Linked DNA regions of Homo sapiens. Each later gene encodes a partner of the first gene's protein in a complex. Each region holds a gene or a part of one and is shown on either strand. Other genes may lie near its edges.

The links.
Region 2: the proteins of TGFB1 (region 1) and ITGB8 are in contact, whole or in part, in a cryo-EM structure (PDB 7Y1T), measured with the Homo sapiens proteins. Residues at the interface, in NP_000651.3 of Homo sapiens: His117, Thr241, Arg243, Arg244, Gly245, Asp246, Leu247, Thr249, Ile250, His251, Gly252, Met253; in NP_002205.1 of Homo sapiens: Ser156, Ala157, Ser158, His160, Asn161, Asp213, Tyr214, Asn215, Leu216, Gly248, Asn249, Ile250, Asp251, Thr252, Glu254, Gln286.

What each region holds. Positions count from the first base shown.
Region 1 is NC_000019.10:41,329,556-41,337,230, forward strand, and holds the end of TGFB1 (transforming growth factor beta-1 proprotein preproprotein), read right to left. Parts: intron 2,727-7,675; coding exon 2,573-2,726; intron 1,656-2,572; coding exon 1,497-1,655; 3' UTR 768-1,496; downstream 1-767. UniProt on the Homo sapiens protein: Transforming growth factor beta-1 proprotein: Precursor of the Latency-associated peptide (LAP) and Transforming growth factor beta-1 (TGF-beta-1) chains, which constitute the regulatory and active subunit of TGF-beta-1, respectively.
Region 2 is NC_000007.14:20,327,096-20,334,243, reverse strand, and holds the start of ITGB8 (integrin beta-8 precursor), read right to left. Parts: upstream 3,345-7,148; 5' UTR 2,438-3,344; coding exon 2,311-2,437; intron 2,268-2,310; coding exon of another isoform or gene 2,221-2,267; intron 1-2,220. UniProt on the Homo sapiens protein: Integrin alpha-V:beta-8 (ITGAV:ITGB8) is a receptor for fibronectin. It recognizes the sequence R-G-D in its ligands.

The DNA of each region.
Region 1 (7,675 bases):
ATCTCGGCTCACTGCAACCTCCACCTCCCAGGTTCAAGCGATTCTCCTGCCTCAGCCTCCTGAGTAGCTGAGATTACAGGCGTGCGCCACCATGGCTAATTTTTGTATTTTTAGTAGAGACTGGGTTTCACCATGTTGGTCAGGCTGGTCTCAAACTCCTGACCTCGTGATCTGCCCGCCTTGGCCTCCCAAAGTGCTGGGATTACAGGCGTGAGCCACTGCGCCCAGCCTTTTTTTGTATTTTAGTAGAGACAGGGTTTCACCATGTGGTCCAGGCTGGTCTCAAACTCCTGACCTCAAGTGATCCCCCTGCCTCAGCCTCCCAAAGTGCTGGGATTGCAGGTGTGAGCCACCGTGCCCAGTCTTTTTTTTTTTTTTTTTTTAAAGATGCAGTCTTGGCTGGGTGCGCTGGCTCATGCTTGTAATCTCAGCATTTTGGGAGGCCGAGGCGGGCGGATCACCTCAGGTCAGAAGTTCGAGACCAGCCTGAACAACATGGTGAAACTTCGTCTCTACTAAAAAAAAATACAAAATTAGCCGAGCATGGTGGCGCATGCCTGTAATCCCAGCTACCCAGCTACTTGGGAGGCTGAGGCAGGAGAATCGCTTAAACCCGGGAGGCAGAGGTTGTGGTGAGCCAAGATCTCGACATTGCACTCCAGCCTGGGCAACAAGAGTGAAAATCCGTCTCAAAAAAAAAACATAAAAAAAAGATGGAGTCTTGCTTTGTCACCCAGGCTGGCATACAGTGGCACAGTCAGGGCTCACTGCAGCCTTGACCTCCCAGGATCAAGTGATCCTCCCACCTTAGCCTCCAGAGTAGCTGGGACCACAGGTGTACATTTTTTAAAAGTGTTTTGTAGAGATAGGGTCTCACTATGTTACCCAGGCTGGTCTCAAATGCCTGGATTCAAGTAATCCTCCCATCTCTGCCTCCCAAAAGTGCTAGGATTACAGGCGTGAGCCACCCCGCCTGGCCTGAACTACTATCTTTTATTGTCTTCTTCACTATCCCCCACTAAAGCAGGTTCCTGGTGGGCAGGAACTCCTCCCTTAACCTCTCTGGGCTTGTTTCCTCACCTTTAAAATGGGTGTTATCAGAGTCCCTGCATCTCAGAGTGTTGCTATGGTGACTGAATGAGTTCATTAATGTAAGGCACTTCAACAGTGCCCAAGGTGCTCAATAAATAGATCTAACTACAGTAGTGTTCCCCACTGGTCCCCTGTGCCTTGATGCCGGGCAAAGGAATAGTGCAGACAGGCAGGAGGAGGCAGAGAGGGAGAGAGAGGGAGTGGGAGTGGGGGAACGTCAGGGATGGAGACCCCAGGCAGGCGCCCAATGACACAGAGATCCGCAGTCCTCTCTCCATCTTTAATGGGGCCCCAGGTGGGCTTGGGGCACGGGTGTCCTTAAATACAGCCCCCATGGGCAAGGCAGCGGGGGCGGGGCGGGGTGGGGCCGGGCCTGCCGGGGCGGGGCGGGGCGGGGCGGGACCTCAGCTGCACTTGCAGGAGCGCACGATCATGTTGGACAGCTGCTCCACCTTGGGCTTGCGGCCCACGTAGTACACGATGGGCAGCGGCTCCAGCGCCTGCGGCACGCAGCACGGCGCCGCCGAGGCGCCCGGGTTATGCTGGTTGTACAGGGCCAGGACCTGCGGGCGGCGGGCGGGGTCAGGGCTCAGGGCTCGTGGAGGGAGGAAAACGGCCCTCCACTGCCCCATCCCCCACCCGCTACCGCGCCAGCCTCTCTCACTTCGTCTCTCCCCGCATCCCCTCTTCCCATCTCCAATTCGGTCTCTCTTATCTTCTAACATCCTATCTTATTCTGTCTCTCCCCACCTGTCTGATTTTCTTTTTGTTTTGAGACTGGGTCTCGCTCTGCCACCCAGGCTGGAGTATAGTGGCACGATCATGGCTCGCTGCAGCCTCAACCTCCTGAGCGCAAGCCATCCTCCCGCCTCAGCCTCCGGAGTAGCTCCAACCACAGGCAAGCGCCACCACTCCTAGCTTTTTTTTTTTTTTTTTTTTTTTTTTTGGTAGAGATGGGATCTCAGTCTGCTGCCTGGGCTACTCTCGAACTCCTGGGCTCAAGCGATCCTCCTGCTTCAGCGTCCCAAAGTGTTGGTATTACCATCGTGAGCCGCCGCGCCCGCCTGATTTTCTTTCTCAGTCTCTGTCCCTCCTCATCTTCGCCTCTTGCCTTGTTGTGTATCTGTCTTTGTCTCTCCTTGGCCTAACTCTGTGTCTGTATCTGTCTCTCTCATTTTGTCTCTCCATTTCTGCGTTTTTCCTTCCATCTCCCTGTCTCTCTTCTCCCCTTCACCCCCATCCCTCTGTTACTTCACTCTGTGGGTCTTCATAGCTCATCTCCCTCTGGCCCCTGCTCAGAGCCCCTCTCTAGCTTCCTGCCTCTCTCCCCATCTCTTTATTCATTCCCCTCCCCACCCCATCCCTCTCTTTCTCCCCATCCTGCCAACTCACCTCTCTGACTTTACTTCTCTTTCTCTCTCCTCTTCCTCCGTCCTGGCTCCCCCCAAGCGCATCTCGTAGCCCGGTGGGCCAGACGTACCTTGCTGTACTGCGTGTCCAGGCTCCAAATGTAGGGGCAGGGCCCGAGGCAGAAGTTGGCATGGTAGCCCTTGGGCTCGTGGATCCACTTCCAGCCGAGGTCCTTGCGGAAGTCAATGTACAGCTGCCGCACGCAGCAGTTCTTCTCCGTGGAGCTGCAGGCAGGAGAGACGCGTCAGGGGCAGGGAGGGGCTACCACCATAGAAGCCACATGCCCCTCCTCCCCAGGTGCGTGTGTCACCCTAGGTTGCCCCCCCAGCCCTATCTCCATCTGGGTCTCCCTTGCACCCACTGTGTTAATAACAACACAAATAGTCATGATAATCACTAACACAGATTAAGCACTTCCTCCAGTGCTAAGAGCAATGTAATAATTAATTTCACGCAATGCTTAAGACAAGCCTGTAAGAAGCCAGATGACCATCCACGGGGGGGCTAAATAAATCATGGCATGCCACACCCTGGAACATACAAAATAACACAGCTCCATGTAAACTGATCTGCTCTATTTGTGCAACAAATGTTTATTGAACTACTACTGTGTGCTGGGCTGGGATCTACTGTGGACTGAGGACAAATGAAACAGATAGAAATAGGCTAGGCATGGTGGCTCACACCTTTAATCCCAGCACTTTGGGAGGATGAAGTGGGAGGATCGCTGGAGTCGAGGAGTTCGAGGTTGCAGTGAACTATGATAACACCACTGCATGCCAGCCTGGACAACAAAGTGCAAGACCCTGTCTCTACAAAATTTTTTTTCAATTTTTTTAAAAAAGAGACAGAAATCTCTGCCCTCCATGGGCATGCTATAAATTGTCTTGTCACTCCTCTGCTCTGAACCTGGCTCCATCTCACGGCAAATGCCCAAGTCCTCACCGTGAGCCACAAGGTGCTATCAAATCTGGCTGATCTCAACTCCCTCTCTCACGCCTACTCCACTCCAGCCACACTGGCGTCCTGTCTGTTCCTCAGACAGTCTTATTTCGGGGCTCCTGCATCTGCTGTTCCCTCTGCCTGCCTTGCTAGTCCCACAGATACCCACTCCAGCTTGTTCCTTCACTTCATTTCTTCTTTTTTTTTCTATTTTTTTTTTTTTTTTTTTTTGAGACAGAGTCTCACTCTGTCTGCCAGGCTGGAGTGCAGTGGCATGATCTCGGCTCACTGCAACCTCCGCCTCCCAGGTTCAAGCGATTCTCCTGCCTCAGCCTTCCGAGTAGCTGGGATTACAGGCGTGTGCCACCATGCCCGGCTAATTTTTTTGTCTTTTTAGTAGAGACAGGGTTTCACCATGTTGGCCAGGCTGGTCTCGAACTCCTGACCTTGTGATCCGCCCACCTCAGCCTCCCAAAGTGCTGGTATTACAGACCTGAGCCACTGCATCTGGCCTATTTATTCTTTTTAATTTGTTATTCTTTTTAGAGACACGGTCTCACTATGTTGCTGAGGCTGGTGTCGAACTTGGGCTCAAACGATCCGCACGCCTCGGCCTCCCAAAGCATTGGGATTACTGGCATGAGCCACCACACCTGGCCCCTTCACTTCATTTAAACCTTAGCTCAAATGTCCTTCACTCAGGGACCCTTAACTCCTAAAGCAGTGTCTGGAATGCAGTAGGTACTAGTAAATATCAGTTACATGACTGAACATCACCTCCTCAGAGATACCTTTCTGAGCCATCCTTTCCAAAATATCCAAGTGACTGTTAGTTCCATTTAGTGCAATACGGTATTGCAGTTATGCAAGAAAATATAAAAATGTCTGCATTTGAAATGGGGCAAAATCTTAATTACCGATGACGCTGGATGAGAGTTTACGGGCATTCATTATCTTCATTGCTTTTGTATACATTTGAAATTTTCCATAATAAAGGAATTTAAATCAGAATAGGAAAAATAACAGTTCCCAATATCTATTACTCTCTGCCTGCCTTCTTCTGGTTTATTTTACTTCTTAGAACTGTCAAAGAGGCCGGGTGCAGTGGCTCACGCCTGTAATCCCAGCACTTTGGGAGGCCAAGGCGGGTGGATCACCTGAGATCAGGAGATTGAGACCAGCCTGACCAACATGGCGAAACCCCGTCTCTACTAAAAATACAAAAATTAGCTGGGTGTGGCGGTGCTTGTCTGTAATCCCAGCTACTCAGGAGGCTGAGGCACAAGAATCTGCTTGAACCCAAGAAGCAGAGGTTGCAGTGAGCCAAGATCGTGCCACTGCACTCCACCCAGGGCAACAGGGTGAGACTCTGTCTTGAAAAGAAAAGAAAAAAGAAAGAAAAGAAAAGAAAAAGTTGACAATGCCTTTTTTTTTTTTTTTTTTTTTTGAGACAGAGTCTTGCTCCGTCACCCAGGCTGGAGTGCAGTGGTGCAATCTTGGCTCACTGCAACCTCTGCTCATAGATTGGTGGGGCCAGCCAGGCACGGTGGCTCACGCCTGTCATCCCGGCACTTTGGGAGGCTAGGGCAGGCAGACTTGAGGACCCTGTCTTTACTAAAAATTCAAAAATTAGCTGGACCTGGTGGCGGGCACCTGTAATCCCAGCTACTGGGGAGTCTGAGGCAGGAGAATCGCTTGAACCCAACTTCAAGTGGCACCGGATAACCTAGAGGCAAGATAAAGCCTTTCCAAGAGCCACAGAAGCCTGAGAAGGAAGTCAAGAAACTGAGATCCCTGTGAACTCAGCCCGTACCACCCAATTTGGTTGGACCTCAGTTTCCTCATCTGTTCAGAGGTAGGAGCTACTAGATAAAATAAGGTGTTAAGCTGAGGGCCAAGGGGCCATCATGGGCAGGCTTAGGGAGGGCCATGAGTGCCTGAGATCATATGCACATGTGTGTATGTATGCATGTATTTCTGGGAAAAAGAGTCCTGGCTTTCACTTTCTCACAGGAAGTTCTGAACTCACAAAAGGGGAAGAACTAGTGTCCGGAATCTTTTTTTTTTTTTGAGATGGAGTTTCCCTCCTGTTGCCCAGGCTGGAGTGCGATGGTGTGATCTCAGCTCACTGCAACCTCCGTCTCCCGGGTTCAAGCAATTCTCCTGCCTCAGCCTCTCAAGTACCTGGGATTACAGGCATGTGCCACCATGCCTGGCTAATTTTTTGTATTTTTAGTAGAGGCTGGGTTTCACCATGTTGGTCAGGCTGGTCTCAAACTCCTGACCTCAGGTGACCCACCCACCTCGGCCTCCCAAAGTGCTGGGATTACAGGCATGAGCCACCGCACCCGGCTCAGAATCATCTTTAATATGCAGTTCAACCCTAGCTGGGGTTCTGAGATCCTAGGATTTGAACAATCTGTGATACTGTTATCCAAGTCAGCAGCTCTCCACGTGAGCTCCCAGGACCAGCGGCAGCATCACCTGGGAACTATGGGAAATGCAGATTCTCAGGTGGCACCCCAGGCCACTGAAATCAGAAATTGTGTGCAGGACTGGGAACAACAGTCCGTGTTGAACAAGCCGTCTAGGTGATCCTCTGACTCATTTTTTCAGCACACATTCGGGGCCTACCCTGCACCGGGCCTTGGGATACCCACAGCCCTTGCCCTTGCCAAGCCTCTTCCGTCCAGTCTCTCAAGACCTAGGCCAGGTGCAGTGACTCACGCCTGTAATCTCAGCACTTTGGGAAGCCAAGACCGGTGAATCGCTTGAGCCCAAGGAGTTTAAGACCAGCCTGGGGAGCATAGTGAGACCCTGTCGCTACAAAACTTTTTATAAATAAAAGACCCAACAGAGACTGTTTGTTGAGTCAAAGATCTACTTAGGGCCCCAGGGGAGCCCAGAGGCCTCACATCCATCTTGGATGTTGGAGAAAGGGGTTAGGAAGGAGGTAGTGTTCGAGCTGCCTTAAGAACAAATTTTCCTATGAAAGTTTTTTTTTTTTTTTTTTGAGATGGAGTCTTGCTCTGTTGCCCCAGGCTGGAGTGCAGTGGTGCAATCTTGGCTCACTGCAACCTCCATGTCCCAAGTTCAAGCAATTCTCCTGGCTCAGCCTCCCAAGTAGCTGGGATTACAGGCACACACCACCATACCCAGCTAATTTTTCTGTATTTTTAGTAGAGACAGGGTTTCACCATGTTGGACAGGCTGGTCTCGAACTCCTGACCTCATGTGATCCACCCGCCTCAGCCTTCCAAAGTGCTGGGATTACAGGTGTGAGCCACCGCGTCCAGCTGGAAAGTTTCAGATGTACACAAAAGCAGCTTCAACAATGACCAACTCATGGCCAATTTCCATTGCATCTCTACCCCTATCCACTATCTCTTTTTTTTTTTTTTTTGAGACAGGATCTCACTCTGTCACCCAGGCTGGAGTGCAGTGGTGCAATCACAGCTCACTGTGGCCTCCAGCTCCTGGGGCTCAAGCCAACCTCCCACCTCAGCCTCCTGAGTAGCTGGGACAAAAGGTACACACCACCAGGCCCAGCTACTTTTCATATTTTTTTTTTTGGGAGATGGGGTTTCACCATATTGCCCAGGCTGGTCTCCAACTCTTAGGCTCAAGCAATCCTCCTGCCTTGGCCTCCCAAAGTGGTGGGATTATAGCTGTGAGCCACTGCAGCCAGCCGACAATGGTTTATCTCAAAGCACATGCAATCCACCGTGTTGCTTCATCCATAAATATTTCAAATGTATCTCTAATTAAGACTACTTTAAAACACAGTCACAATACCATGTAAGAAAATTAACAATTCCTTGATATCTAGAGGAATATCTAGACAGAGTTCACATTTACCCAACTGTCTCATAAATATCTTTTTTTTTTAAGCCTGTGTAAATAAGGATTCAAGTAAGGTCTACACATTGCAATTGGTTGATATGTCTCTTAGGATTTTTTTTTTTTTTTAATTTTTGAGATGGAGTCTCACTCTGTCACCCAGGATGCAGTGAAGTGGTGCAATCTCGGGTCACTGCAACCTGTGCCTCCCAGGTTCAAGTGATTCTCCTGCCTCAGTCTCCCAAGTAGCTAAGACTACAGGCGCCTGCCACCATACCCTGCTAATTTTTGTATTTTTAATTATTTATTTATTTTTTTGAGACGGGAGTCTCACTCTTGTTGCCCAGGCTGGAGTGCAATGGCGCGACCTCGGCTCACTGCAACCTCCACT
Region 2 (7,148 bases), on another chromosome or scaffold:
GCTGTGGGTAATCTTCACCAGAGACAGTTAAAAAACAAACTGCTATAATTTTTGCTACATCAGAAATCTTTGGATTTGATTAATAACATCCCCCACTGCTCACTATATATTTGTTATTAAAAGTCCACTATATGTTCGAGACCTATAAATTCTGCTTTAAAAATTAAACCCAAAGTTATGCTGGTCTTATGCAGCTTCTGGTCTCTTTTGTATGGCTTTATTGCCCTCAACATTCTCCTGGTGTAAACTACTGAGCAAGGAAACAAGATTTCCATTGTAACTGATACCTAAATTTCTATTCTGCTTTAAGCATCTAATTTGCACTGTAAAGACATATAATTTGAGACTTGTAGCTATATCACAAAAGTACAGCAGTTTATGCTGATCTCTAATTTTCTGAGTTATACTGGCTATAATTTACATTTTTTGCATGTTTTTAACTGCCATGCAAATCAGTATACATCAGAAACCTTTGTATATTGACAGAGACTGGGAAAAGGATGCCTTGTTCTGATTTCAGATAAGCATTCCCTTTTCAGGTCTGCAGGTGCAAGTAGGCCCATTCATAATATTTCCTTCAAATCAGTTTTAGACACTGGGTAGAAATGCAATGCTTTTTCACAAGAGCCTGACTAATGTTTATAAGCACAGTTAATGGTTTTTAAAAATGTACTTTAAATAGTAAATTTTAGAGGCAAGTAGGACTTTTTCCTTTGCCTGTACGTTGGGAACAAAATATACTGTGTTAACACAAATTTTGGTCATTTTACTAGTGTGTATGTGTGTTTACTAAATCTAGAAAAGCACTTTATTACTTATTGAAACAGGATGAAATTATGCTTAGCGGAAAATTTGCTGCAACAAATGCATGTTTCTTCCATTTAAGAGATAACTGATAATGAATGTTACTTTTTCCTTTGCCTTTTCACTATTTTGAAATCAACAAACAAGCCAAAAAATAACCACAAGATAAAGAGATTTACTCTAATTTCTCCATTTCAGATAACTGAGCAAATCTCCCTGAAACAAATATTAGAAAACTGTATATGCAACAATTTCCTAAAGATAGCTGGATGTTTCCATATATCTCTATATCTATATATATAAAACCTACTTATAAGGTTATGATTTGACTGTTTTAATTAGCTTCAGGCAAAACCTTGACACTTTAAAGTATAGGAGTAAATTTTAACCTACAAAACAATTACAACTATTAATTAAACTCTCCTTGAGCCCAAGAGGTCAGAGAAAGGCTCTAATATAATTTAAGGACTTGGTGACCAAACAGAGAAAAAGTGAAATTAAAAAAAAAAAAAAAGAAAGTATGACAAGAGTCACTGCATTAGCAAAAATAAATGTTGGGCCTATATTGAAAACCATTAAGAACTCATCCTAAACTCATGATTCGTCCTATTACTTAGTTGTGTAATTTTCCAACAATCCAATCTGGTATACCACCTTACATTTGATTTTGTTTCATAAATCAAAAGTCCTAAAACACCTTCTCATATGCTATTTGACTTGAACTTTCCTTTGTGATTTAGAGAAGGCAGGTATTATTAATAAACCTCGTTTTACAGATGAGGACAATGCATTTCGTAAAGAGTTAACCTCTCCACATTAAGGTAGCTCTTACACAAATGGTTTGCCTGGACAGAAAGCTGTTAATCCTGGTTCAGAGTTCTTTCTGCTTCTCTGTCTCAGAGATTGATCTCAGTGAGGGATCAATTAGATAGTATTTTTTTTTTTTAAGCCGAAAGGATGATGACTTAAAGCATTAATATCCCTCCAGTGTGGGTAATTCATTCAGATTGAGCACTAATGATAGCAGAAACTTGTATGCTGTCTTTTTCTGGACTCAAAAATTGAAGACTACTCCCATTATAACCAACTTATCTACAGCCTCGAGTTAAAGGCAAGTTAGTCCTTAGTGGACCCAAATGTTAGAAAGATAGGGAGAACATTGTGTACAGACGATGCCCTTAAGAATGGACCAGGGCCCCTAAATGACTTCTGTAAACAGGACACCCTCTTTTCCAAAATTCCTTTCTATTAGGGCTTCCTCAACACCTAGGAGTAACACAGAGTGTCTCCTCTGATAATTAGTCCTTGCTGTCGCTCCAGGGCAGAAATGCTTGACACCTGGCCTCTAGGCCATCTGTGCTGGAGGACGCTGCCCCGCACCCGCCCCCTTGAAGTTCTCTGATGACCGCAACTTACCTGGCCGGGATGCTCTGGCCGGGCAGCTCTTCGTGCCAGCCCAAGACCTTTGGGGAAGAGAAGAAAACAAAACAAAACAAAACAACTTACCACCTTGGCCCAGTCCAAGAACAAGTGAAAACACCCAGGCTGCCCAGAGGAACGAGGCGGGACCTCGCCGGTCGTTTTGCAGGCAGACAAATGCAGCGGTAAAAAAAGCCAGGGCCGAGCCGCACATAATGCAAAACAGCCCGCCCCGCGCCCGCCGCCTGACTGCCTTCCGGACGCGGGCTCGCGCCTCCCGGGCGCACCTCGGGGCCCGCGGGCCGAGTGTCGCTAGGACGTTTTCCGCAGGCCTAGCAGGCGGACCCCGCGGCTCGGAGCAAGCGGTGCAGGTAAGCGGGCCCGGGCACCGCTCGGCATCTCAGGGCCCCTGCGGCCCTCCCGGCTCGGCACGGCGGGTCCCGCGGTCTCCGCGAGAAGCACCTCCTTCGACGGCCAAGGGCCCCGGCGGCGACTGGAGAGAGGGCTCTGCAAGGGCTCCGCAGCCTGCTCCGGGACAAAGAAAAGAGCTTTTGTTTCTCTCCAGCCGGTGGGGCTTCTGCTGCATAAATCAGCTTAGCGAAGAGCCAAACACAATCAAACCCAAACAAAGCCCGAAGCTGGGGGGGAAACCACCCTAATGTACATTCACTGGGTGATGCTGGATCTGTGGGAGGGGACGCCGGCGAGGTCGAGGGGAAAAAAGTCTGTGGCGCATCAATCAGCGCAGTTGCTTCCACAGGTGGGCAGGGAGGCCAACACCATTAGTTGCAGCTTTGCAGCCCCGTCTGCGGAGCAGCGGGCAAAGACAAGTCGGCAGCGTCCTGGCTGGCAAGGGAGGAAGCTCGGGATGCCAGCAACAGGGGGAGGCGGCTCTGGGAGCGCCCTAGAAGCACCCGCCGACACCCGCAGGCACAGAGCGAGGCATCGCCGCTCCCTCCCTGGCGGGGAGTGGGGCCTGCGGCTGCGAGCGCAGGAGGGGAGGTTCCGCGAGGTGCCGGAGCCCGGCTTCGCGGGGCGGGGGCTGCGTGCCCTTGTCCTTTTCGCCTCAGTGCGCGGCTCAGGCGTCCCGCAGTCCAGAGCCCGAGTTGCTGGCGCGCTCTGGGGTGCACACGGCTAGGATGCGAGAGAGGCGAGGCCGGCGATGGGCGGGAGAGGGGTGGTCCTGCTCTGGCCCCCCGGGGGGCTCCAGACCTGCGGGTAGCCGGGTGCACTCAGGGCAGAGAGTTGCTAGGAAACCTCCCCACGCTACCGGAGCGCCTCGCCTCGGCTGCCCGCAGGCGCGGCTGCAGCCCGGGCAGGAGCAGCAGTAACAGCTCGGAGCAGCGTGGGCGGGACATTGGTGAGGCATGAAGTCACCGCGGCCCACACTCGCTCTTTGTTTTGCTCACTCCAGCTCTTTCTTTTCCCCCTTGGCTCTGATAGTTGCCATTCCCATCGTTCACAAGAACTCCTGAAGCGTAGCCGCGCAACAGGAATGGCACGCCTCGTTCCCTTCTCCCTCCTCCCCCGAATCCTTGCACCCCAACGCTCGCGGGGGTGGTGGGAGACTCGCTCAGCGCCAGCGGCAGCTGCGAGCAAACCCCAATCTCTCACCCCCGCGCTGCTCGCCGCTTTGTTCGGAGATACTCACTGCCCCGCAGCTGCTGCATACAAAGTGGAGTCAAGGGACCTCCCCTGCCCCCAACGCCCTCTACTCAGCACTTTGCTTGCAGTTAGGAGCTCGTCCTCTACCCCACCACAAGGCTGCCCCGGTGTCCCTAGCCTTTGGAGAGTTGGACCAGTCTGCAGGGGCTGTTCCCGGAGCGACTGGCCGAGATTTCTCGCTGCTCCTTCTCTGCTCAAAACCTTAACCCTGGACTGGACAGCCCTGTTTTTCCCCAGCGTCTGGTGGTGGCTCTGGGCTTTTGCAAGTTACAGTGGGTCTTTTGATCTTAAGCGTCACCTTCCCAGTAAACGGAACAAAAAGTTACAGACAGCAGCAAAGCGGGGAGAGGGGAGCTAAGGAGAGAAAGTGGAAGGCACTTCTGCCTGCTTGCAGCTCAGAAATTTAGGTGCAAGTAGGGTGCGGGTGTTATGCTGGGCAACTGCCCGGAAGCAGCGCGCCTCCTCGGGTCCTGTCATTACCACGCTAAGTCGAGGGAGGGAACTCAGTCCCCCGCATTGGAAACAAGGCAGTGTTTCCAGTTTAACACGGTGATGGTTCTCTTTTCCCTCTAGGGGCAGGAGCGATTCCCATTCGAGGAGTTTGACCTCTCATTTTAATACAACACCCGCCTCTTAGAGGCAGCAGACCAGTCCAGCCAGGTCAAGGTGAAATATGCGGGAGTTTCCCCCCTTCTTATTTAATAGTTTCCGTCTCCTTATTTGTAGTTAAAAAAAAAAAAAAAAAAAAAGTAGGAGGCGCGGTCTCTCTCTTTCTTTCTGTTGACTGAGTGAATGGAAAGTACCTGGTTAATAAACCACAACATCGAAACTCCCCCTTTCAGGTGTGGACCGCACAACGGGGTGCACAGGATTAGTTAAGCAAAGCAGGAACCCAGCTGGAAAATTAAACGAGCCCTGGATCTGCAAAGCAGGTCCCTTCGCGAGACCAAAGCCGTGATCCCAACCTTAGCAACATAATTCTACTGGAGGTGATGTACTCTAAATAAATAGAAATAAATCCAGCTCCGCTTTAATATTTATTTCCTTTCCTTAGTTCCAAGTTTGAACAGTTATAGTTTTGTTTTTTGGTTGTCTTAAAGGAAAGGCCTAAAAATTAGTTAGGATGGGTGTGAGGACTTGAAAATTTGAACACAAAAATATCATATTCAATATCTGATTAGTGACTCTTCCATTGGGCAGCCTGGGTATTTTCCAGGGGTTATGTCACAGACCTACTGAATGCAGCCACCCTTGAGACATGCAGTGCTTCAATCAAAAAAAAAAAAAATTAAATCCCTAATTCCCATAAGGACATGTCAATACACTTTAAAGTGTCTATCATATCACCATTCCATAATATTCTAAAATACAACTCTTTGTTGCTGGGTTGTAAGTGGCAGTTACAGTAATAAATAAAATATAAATGTATGCAAACAAGAAAGGATGTAACTTTATGAAATTGATGAGGTATGCACTAATTTTTGTAACTCTGTTTTTAGGTGTTGATATATATACTAATCCAGAACAACCATGTAGCAAGAGGAATAAAATGAAGTTCAGAAGTCTGTTTCGGGAAATTTTGAAGCCCTTTAGAAAGAAAGATTTCTACATTTTGTTACATGAAATTCATGCAAATATATGTCAGGTGCCAGTGCTATGGAGTTGTTGAAGAATAAGCACAATACCATTTATTACCACTTCTCAGTTGTAAAGAGGCTGTAACTCTGGTTGTCGAAATAAAATAAAATGAAATCTCCTAGATGTGACACTGTGACCCCTGCCAGTTATTTACAAACAAGTTATCTGCACATTTTGGGCTGTAAACATAAAAGTAAACTCTCTGAAAGACTGCAAATCATCTTTAGGGTTTTCTTAAAGTAAATACAACTAGTGGCCCAGGAACCAAAAGTTTGCTTGTTTCCAGTTAATGTCACTGGTCACCATAACTCACCCTTTTTCCTATGAGGAAATGTACAGCATATTTTAAAGAAATGCAGTATTGTTATCTTCGTCATATTACCTGAAGAATTCTAATAAAGGAAAAATGTTTCGGAAGATGGTGACTTGATTAATTTGTTTTTCCATCATGTTCTGCTATATTGCTTTGAAATTTCTGACAGCTAATTTTTCATCATTTGTGGTAATGAGAGGAAATGAAATTCACAGATAGTCTAAAAATAACATTTTAGTTATTCATTCCAGGCTTCCTATCATTAGAGTCTTTGAGCTGAGTTACTAAAAAGTCATAAAATTAAATTACTTAAATTTCTTCCCTACTCCTTTAACCTTGATTTCTCACTAAGTGAGTTTATGGTGAGAATGAATAAGCTATAGATAGGTAGCAGGAGTGAGGGAGACACTCAGACTGTTTTTTAAGAAATGGAATCTTGCTATCTCACTATGTTGCCCAAACTGGCCTTGAACTCCTGGTTCAAGTTTGAACTCAAGCTATCCTCCCACCTCAGCCTTCTGTGTAGCTGGGATTATAGGTGTAAGACACCACATACAGCTGTGGCTATTCACACTTTAACTAGATGTGCCCAAATTATTGATCTCATAGTGGCACCTACAGACACATTTGAATTTTAATGTTACATCTTTTTGAAGTTGGGATCAGAGCCATTCAGTACGTTTTGGGTGGGTATTCACAAGTTATCTATAAGCTTGCCTGAGACATCTCAGAAGATGATTAATGGTCAGACCAGTGAGATATATTATTGTGACTATGACCTCTAGCTTCTTCTAATGATAAAGTACATAAATTGCTTGAAGGTATTTTTCACTGAATTGTTACATAAGACAGTGTTTCTCATACTGTAGACTGAAGACTGCATACAACACAATCCCCCATAGAGTAATTCTGAGTTCTAATTCCTTGTCTCTATTCCAGGAGATTCTGAATTAGTAGATCTTGTATGGTGCTCAGCAATCTGCATTATACCAAGGTCCTCAAATGGTTTTTATATGCTCTGAAGTTTAAGAACTTCCTACTTTAATGGGTTAATACAGAGACTCCTTAAAGGCCTCATGAGTGTTTAATAACAGAGATCAGTGTCAGGTGCAAATTCAAAGAAAAATGAACTGCTGGAGCCAGTGTCTCTTGCCAAGATAGTTTATGGATGACTCAATCTGTGAGATATTAATGTTTTCTGAAACAAGACTTCCATGATTAAGCTTGGGAAATGCTGAATTAAAGTCAAATTAAATCCCTTACTAGAGGAATTTCCGGAAACTCAATAGAGCAGCATGCCATTAGATTC